Homo sapiens: one gene and its partner. The gene in region 2 interacts genetically with the main gene of each other region. Each region holds a gene or a part of one and is shown on either strand. Other genes may lie near its edges.

What was found.
Region 1: changes in TTC4 (region 2) and NSMCE1 together harm fitness less than expected from each alone (positive genetic interaction), as found in Homo sapiens cells (one large-scale study listed by BioGRID).

What each region holds. Positions count from the first base shown.
Region 1 is NC_000016.10:27,227,347-27,230,999, forward strand, and holds part of NSMCE1 (non-structural maintenance of chromosomes element 1 homolog), read right to left. Parts: intron 1-3,653. UniProt on the Homo sapiens protein: RING-type zinc finger-containing E3 ubiquitin ligase that assembles with melanoma antigen protein (MAGE) to catalyze the direct transfer of ubiquitin from E2 ubiquitin-conjugating enzyme to a specific substrate.
Region 2 is NC_000001.11:54,736,361-54,739,860, forward strand, and holds part of TTC4 (tetratricopeptide repeat protein 4), read left to right. Parts: intron 1-1,221; coding exon 1,222-1,304; intron 1,305-3,500.

The DNA of each region.
Region 1 (3,653 bases), on a different chromosome or scaffold from region 2:
CAGATGGAGCTGGAAGGAGTCTGGAGAGGGCAGACAGGCCCCATCACACTGTGGGCAGTGGAGCCTCCAGTGGAAGCCAGGCCTCCTGGTTCCCATGCCAGGGTGCGGTCCACCCATCATGCATCCTGAAATCCCTGGGAGAGCCCGGAAGCACAAGAACAATGCAGCTCCCCAGGCCGACCCTACTGCCAGGTCACAGGAGAAAGGCAGCACTGAGGGAGACCCAAGGCAGGCAAATGACACGGGACCCAGGACATGGACCCATGCAGGCTGATTCCAGTTTCTCCACAGTCAGCTCATGCATCGGATATGAACCACACCAGGAGATGACGTCACTGACGCCTGCAAGTCACCCGAGTGCTCAACTGCCTTTTCTGTTATTTTCTAATTTTTAATTTTTACAAGCAAGAGCTGTCACTCCCGTTTCTTTTCTTTTCTTTTTTTTTTTTTTTTTTTGAGATGGAGTTTTGCTCTTGTTGCCCAGGGTGGAATGCAATGGCACAATCTTGGCTCAATGCAACTTCCGCATCCCGGGTTCAAGCAATTCTCCTGCCTCAGCCTCCTGAGTAGCTGGGATTACAGGCATGCGCCACCACGCCTGGCTAATTTTGTATTTTTAGTAGAGACAGGGTTTCACCATGTTAGCCAGGCTGGTCTTGAACTCCCGACCTCAGGTGATCCGCCCACCTCGGCCTTCCAAAGTGCTGGGATTGCAGGCGTGAGTCACCGCACCCAGCCCACTCCCGTTTCTGACAGGTAGAGCCCCCCACCCCATTCCCACCTTCATCCCCACAGTGCAATGTGGAGGGGTGTGCTTGCGTAATCTGGGCTCACAGTGCGTTCGCTCTGGAACACCAGTAGAGGAGCTGGGTGAGCACAGGAAGGAAGGCAGGGCAGAAGCGTGGGGTTGGGGCATGGACAGCCGCTGCGGGAACAGTGGAGGGAGGCCGGGGCACCAGGTGCTTGTGCCCTGCACCGCAGCTGTTGCTGGTGCACAGGGGCTTTGTGTCATCCAAGTGCTGTGGGCAATGGGAGGATGTGACCAGCCCCCAGGCTGTCCTCGGTCCTCAGTCCTATGGCTGTTACCTTCCCCCAAAGCTCCCAAATCCATCATGGCACCCCACCTCCCTGGCCACCGCCCTCTTCCAGCCTCCCCTCCAGATCCATCACGGCACCCCACCTCCTTGGCCCCCACCCTCTTCCACCCTCCCCTCCAGATCCATCACAGCACCCCACATCCCCAGCCACCACCCTCTTCCACCCTCCCCTCCAGATCCATCATGGTACCCCACCTCTCCAGCCCCCACCCTCTTCCACCCTCCCCTCCAGATCCATCACAGCACCCCACATCCCCAGCCACCACCCTCTTCCACCCTCCCCTCCAGATCCATCATGGTACTCCACCTCTCCAGCCCTCACCCTCTTCCACCCTCCCCTCCAGATCCATCATGGCACCCCACACCCCCAACCACCGCCCTCTTCCGCCCTCCCCTCCAGATGCATCATGGTACCCCACATCCCCGGCCACCGCCCTCTTCCACCCTCCCCTACAGATCCATCATGGCAACCCACCTCCCCGGCCTCCACCCTCTTCCACCCTCCCCTGCTCCTGCTGCTCTCTGAGCCCACTCTCCTCCAGCAACGCACTCGCTACCGAACAAGCCTGGCCCTGTCACTCCCAACTCACCCCCACCCCAGGGCTTCCCACCACCCTTAGGTCCAAGAGCCAAGCCCCTAATACGCGTATCTCCCGGGCTGCCCTCCGTCTGCTCGCCTCGCAATCTTTGTGCTCAGATGGCCCTGGCCTTAGCTTCTTGAGTGCACCTGCTGGCCACAGGGCCACTGCCGGGCTGATGATCCTCCCACCCCAGGCTCCAGGCAACTCCCACACAGCCTTCAGCTCAAGTGTCACTTCCTCAGCAGCTGAGGGCCGGTTCCTCTGGGACAGCTGTCATAAAGCCATGTTTCCTTTCCATCTGTACCAGGACTGCAGTGAGATGACCGTCTCACTGATCTCGGGCTCCCCCTCCAGACCATGGCCCCATGGGAGCGGCCACCAGCTCTGGCTGTGCTCACTCCTGTGTCCGCAGCACCTGCTGTGGGGCCCAGCACTTGGCAGGCCTGTGATAAACACCCACGGGAAGATGAAGTAGACCTTGCACTGATCCCAAAGGAATGCCTGACACTAAGCAAGTTCAAGCTCAGACTGAGGCAGGAGCTGCATTTATTTTTTATTTATTTATTTGAGACAGAGTTTCGCTCTTGTTGCCCAGGCTAGATCATGCAATGGCACGATCTCAGCTCACTGCAACCTCTGCTTCCAGGGTTCAAGCGATTCTTCTGCCTCAGCTTCCCGAGTACCTGGGATTACAGATGCCCGCCACCACACCCAGCTAACTTTTTTATATTTTTAGTAGAGACAGGGTTTCACCATATCGGCCAGGCTGGTCTCAAACTCCTGACTTCAAGTGATCTACCCGCCTTGGCCTCCCAAAATGCTGGAATTACAGGTTTGAGCCACTGCACCCAGCCAAGCTGCATTTACTGAACACCTGCTATGTGCCTGAAACTGCACCCAAGGCTCACCATTCATGACCCACTCAGTCCTCTGAGGGCCCATCAGGGGAGGGGCAGGAGGGATGCCCTAGCCCTCAAAGACGACGACAGCCCAGGTGATCTCCCAGGCGCCTCGCCACAACACTTGGAAGTCAGGACCTCGTGTAGGGAGCAGTCCTGGGGTGTATGGAGGTGCGCCGATCAGCAGACGCCCAGCTCCCATGAGCCGCGCTTGCTCTCAGAGGCCTCCCCGCTGACCCCAACCACCTACCACCCCTGGGCCTTCTCCTGGACGGACAGCTGCCTCAGCACCTCCATGCCGGGCCAGTCTCACACAGGACTGGCTGTCCAGGAGTGACGTGTCCTTGGGGTGATATACCCACCTGGAAGGGCCTTGTCAGTGGGCCCCTGGCTATTTCTGTGGGAAGCCCTGTGTCTGAGAGGCCAAGGATCAGACACTGACATGTGGTCTCTCTGATCGAGGTGCTGCCCTAGGAAGACCTGTCCTGGGTAAGTGAGCACCCGCCCCGGTTCTCAGTGATTCCTCCAGAGTGCCGCAGACCTCAAGGCAACCCTTACCAGGCCATGTAGGTCAGAGAGCACTGGACCCTCACAGAAAACACCTGGAGCTGGCAATGTCCCCATCCTGCAGATGAGGAAACAGTCTCCGCAACGAGAAGCTGCTCACCACAGGCAGCGGAGGAACCTGGAGGAGTCTCACCACACAGCCCCTGCCACATTAGCTTCGTTCCTTCGTCCTCCTGAGGGCCCCAGCAGGCCAGGCAGTCAACAAGAAGCCTCTCTAGGGCTACTGCCCAGCGCCAGTGCTGAGGGCCCCCTGCTACTTCTGCAGCGCTCCTGCAGGTGGCAGCTCCCGGATCCTCTGTCCACCCTCCCTCGAGCTCAGAGGCGCCCTGCAGAAGGTGGTGCCAGCACTGCCACCGAACTGAGAAAGGCACAGAGTACAAGCGCCTGCAGCCACAGCTCACCGCCACAGACTCCAGGGCGGGGCCTCTCCTATCCACCACCGCCCTCTCCAGACACCAAGGGCAGACAAAGGGCAAGTCAAACCATAAAGCTGGGGGCACGCCCTGCAA
Region 2 (3,500 bases):
TTGTTCTTTTTTTGTTTTTGTTTTTTTGAGACAGAGTCTAGCTGTGTTGCCCAGGCTGGAGTGCGGTAGGGAGATCTTGGCTCACTGCCAAGATCAACCTCCTGGGCTCAAACAATCCTCCCACCTCAGTCTCCCAAGTAGCTGGGACCACAGGCGTTTGCCACCGTGCCCAACTAATTTTTGTATTTTTAGTAGAGATGAGGTTTCACCATGTTGCCCAGGCTGGTCTTGAATTCCTGGACTCAAGTGATCCACCTGCCTCAGCCTCCCAAGTGTTCAGATTACAGGCATAAGCCACCATGCCTGGCCTGACTTTATTATTCTTAATATAGTTATTTGTTTGATCAGTTCCCCTCCTGTCATCACCACTGGCCCCTCTCCTATGTGGAGCCTTCCTCACCCTACTTGGACTCTTGACTCCACATGTTACGCTGCTGCCCCAGCGTGGGCGTCTTTCTCACCCCGCACAGACTCTGACATCCCACACTGCTCAACGACCCTACATGGACATCCTCCTCATCCTGCTTGGGCTCTGACACCCTACAGCAGGCCACCCCCTGCCATGAGTGGTCACCCTCCTCACCCTAGTTGGGCCTGTAAACTCCATATTACTTGTCCCCATGCATGGATACCCTTTTCACCCCACATGGCCTCTGACACCCCACCTTGGACAGCCATCTTACAAGGGAGCACTTCTTCCCCTGCTCAGGCCTGCTGGCCCCCAGCATGGATGCTCTTCTTCACTGGTCCTGCTCTGACACCCCCGGGAGCTTCCTGTGCAGGCGTCTTCCTCACCCTGCTTGGGCTTTGACACCCTGCACAGACATCCTTCTCTCCTTCTTCAGGCTCTTTCCTTCTCTGAGCCACCATAGCTTTCTCCTCCACATACCTGATGGCTTTAGTCTGATTTGTTAGGGAAAGGAGGGCTACATAGGCCTGGCCTTGAGTCTTGATTCTTCTGTTTACCAGCAGGGTAATGTTGGCAAGTTGTTGTTCTTCTCTGAGCCTTGATTCTGTCTTTGGAAGATGGAACTGATAATAGCCTCTTTTACAGTGGCATGGCGGGGGGGTACTAAATGCAAAGCACCCAGCTACACAACCATATAAAGGAGGCATTCAACTACTAACCGTTGCCATCTTTTTAATTTTCCCTGGGCTTAGCCTCAACTAAGGCTGCCGAAGCCTTTATCTCTGACTCTTGCCCTTCTGTTAATCTTGCAGGTCTACTTTGAGGATGAGGACAGGGCAGAACTATACCGGGTGCCTGCCAAGAGCACCTTGCTACAGGTTCTACAGCACCAGAGGTGAGTCATCTCATGGCGCTGAGTAGATTGGGGAAGATGCTCAGTGTATTAGTCCATTTTCACACTGCTGATAAAGACATACCTGAGACTGGTCAGTTTATAAAGAAAAGAGGTTTAGTGGAGAACTCACAGTTCCACGTGGCTGGGGATGCCTCACAATCATGGCAGAAGGCAAGGAGGAGCAAGTCACCTCTTACGTGGATGGCGGAAGGCAAAAAGAGAGAGCTTGTGCAGGAAAACTCCCTTTTTTTTTGAGATGGAGTTTTGCTCTTGTCGCCCAGGCTGGAGTGCAATGGTGTGATCTCGGCTCACTGCAACCTCCACCTCCCAGGTTCAAGCAATTCTCCTGCCTCAGCCTCCTGAGTAGTTGGGATTATAGGCACCTGCCACCACGCCCGGCTAACTTTTGTATTTTTAGTAGAGACGGGGTTTCACCATGTTGGCCAGGCTGGTCTTGAACTCCTGACCTCAGGTAATCCACCTGCCTTGGCCTCCCAAAGTGCTGGGATTACAGGCATGAGCCACCACTCCCGGTCAAAAACTCCCATTTTTCAAAGCATCAGATCTCGTGAGACTTAGTCGCTATCACGAGAACAGCACAGGCAAGACATACCCCCATGATTCAGTCATCTCCCACCGGGTCCCTCCCACAACACATGGGAATCATGGGAGCTACAAGATGAGATTTGGTTGGGGATACAGAGCCAAACCATATCACTCAGGCACCATCCGAGGAGTAGAGCCAGGTTCTCATTCCGCTGCTGACTGATTGCCTCATACTCCCCTCCCTTCTGCCCTGAGCACAGAGCTGTGTGAGACAGCAGCCATGGAGACTGGCCGGGCCCATAAAACTCAGCCATTGGTCAAACAGGCTCCAGTGTGATGATAGCCCACTGCACCACAGCCATAACACTCCAGACCAGGGGAGATAAATAGGACTGGTCTTTGAAGGGAAAAGCTGCCTGGCTTTTTGTACATGAAGGCTGCTAGGATGGCCTTTTTTTTTTTTTTGAGACGACATCTCGCTCTGTCACCCAGGCTGGAGTGCAGTGGTGCGATCTTGGCTCACTGCAACCTCTACCTCACCCCCCAGGTTGAAGTGATTCTCCTGCCTCAGCTTCCTGAGTAGCTGGGATTACAGGCGCCTGCCACCATGCCTGGCTAATTTTTGTATTTTTAGTAGAGACGGGGTTTCACCATGTTGTCCAGGCTGGTCTCAAACTCCTGACCTCAGGTGATCCACTCACCTCGGTCTTCCAAAGTGCTGGGATTACAGGCGAGCCACTGCACCCGGCCAGCCTTCCTTTTCCTAATCGTACCTATACCTATGTCTCCTGATGCTCTTTCTTTTGTTTGCTTTTTCTTATTTTGAATTTTTTTTTTTTTAAATAGAGATGGGGTTTTACCATGTTGGCCAGGCTGGTCTTGAACTCCTGGGCTCAAGCAATCCACCCACCTCAGCCTCCGAAAGTGCTGAGATTACAGATGTGAGCCACCACACCCAGCCCCTAAAATTTTTTTTTAAATTATTTTTATAATAGAGACAGGGTATCTTCTCCAGGCTGGTCTTGAACTGGGTTCAAGCAGTCCTCCTGCCTCACCCTCCCAGGTAGCTGGAATATCAAGTGCATGCCAGTGACCCGGCTCCTGATACTGTCATATGAAGAAAGCATTGGCTCTTGAAGTCAGACCCATCATCATTTACTGGCTGTGTGACTCCAAGCACACGCTGCCTCTCTGGGACTGCCGCCTCATCTCTGGAATGGGAGTAATACATGCCTACACATTTCTCAAGTATTTGAGAGCCAATGACAGGATAGGAGTTGAAGTGCTGTTGTAAACTGCACAGGGCAGTCCTGCTATAGGAGGGCATCTTTGTCATTAGCAGTGGCAGCAAGTTGGATTTGGCAGTTGTCTCAGAGAAGCTGTGAGGTGTTCCTGGACTATAAGGGAAAGCCCTCAGCAGATTTGCAAATTGACTCTTGGACTACTTTTCCTTAAGCTTTGAGCAAAGCAAAGCAGAGAAAAGCAGATGCTTTTGCACTTAAGCTAAAAGAGCCCAATGTATTAGTGTAAAGAGAGTGGTTGGATGTGGTAGGAAATGAGGCTAGAAAGCTAAGTTAGGGCCATACACGAAGGCCTGAATGCCCTGCTAAGGAGCGTAAACTTTATCCTGATTGTGGTGTACACCAGGGT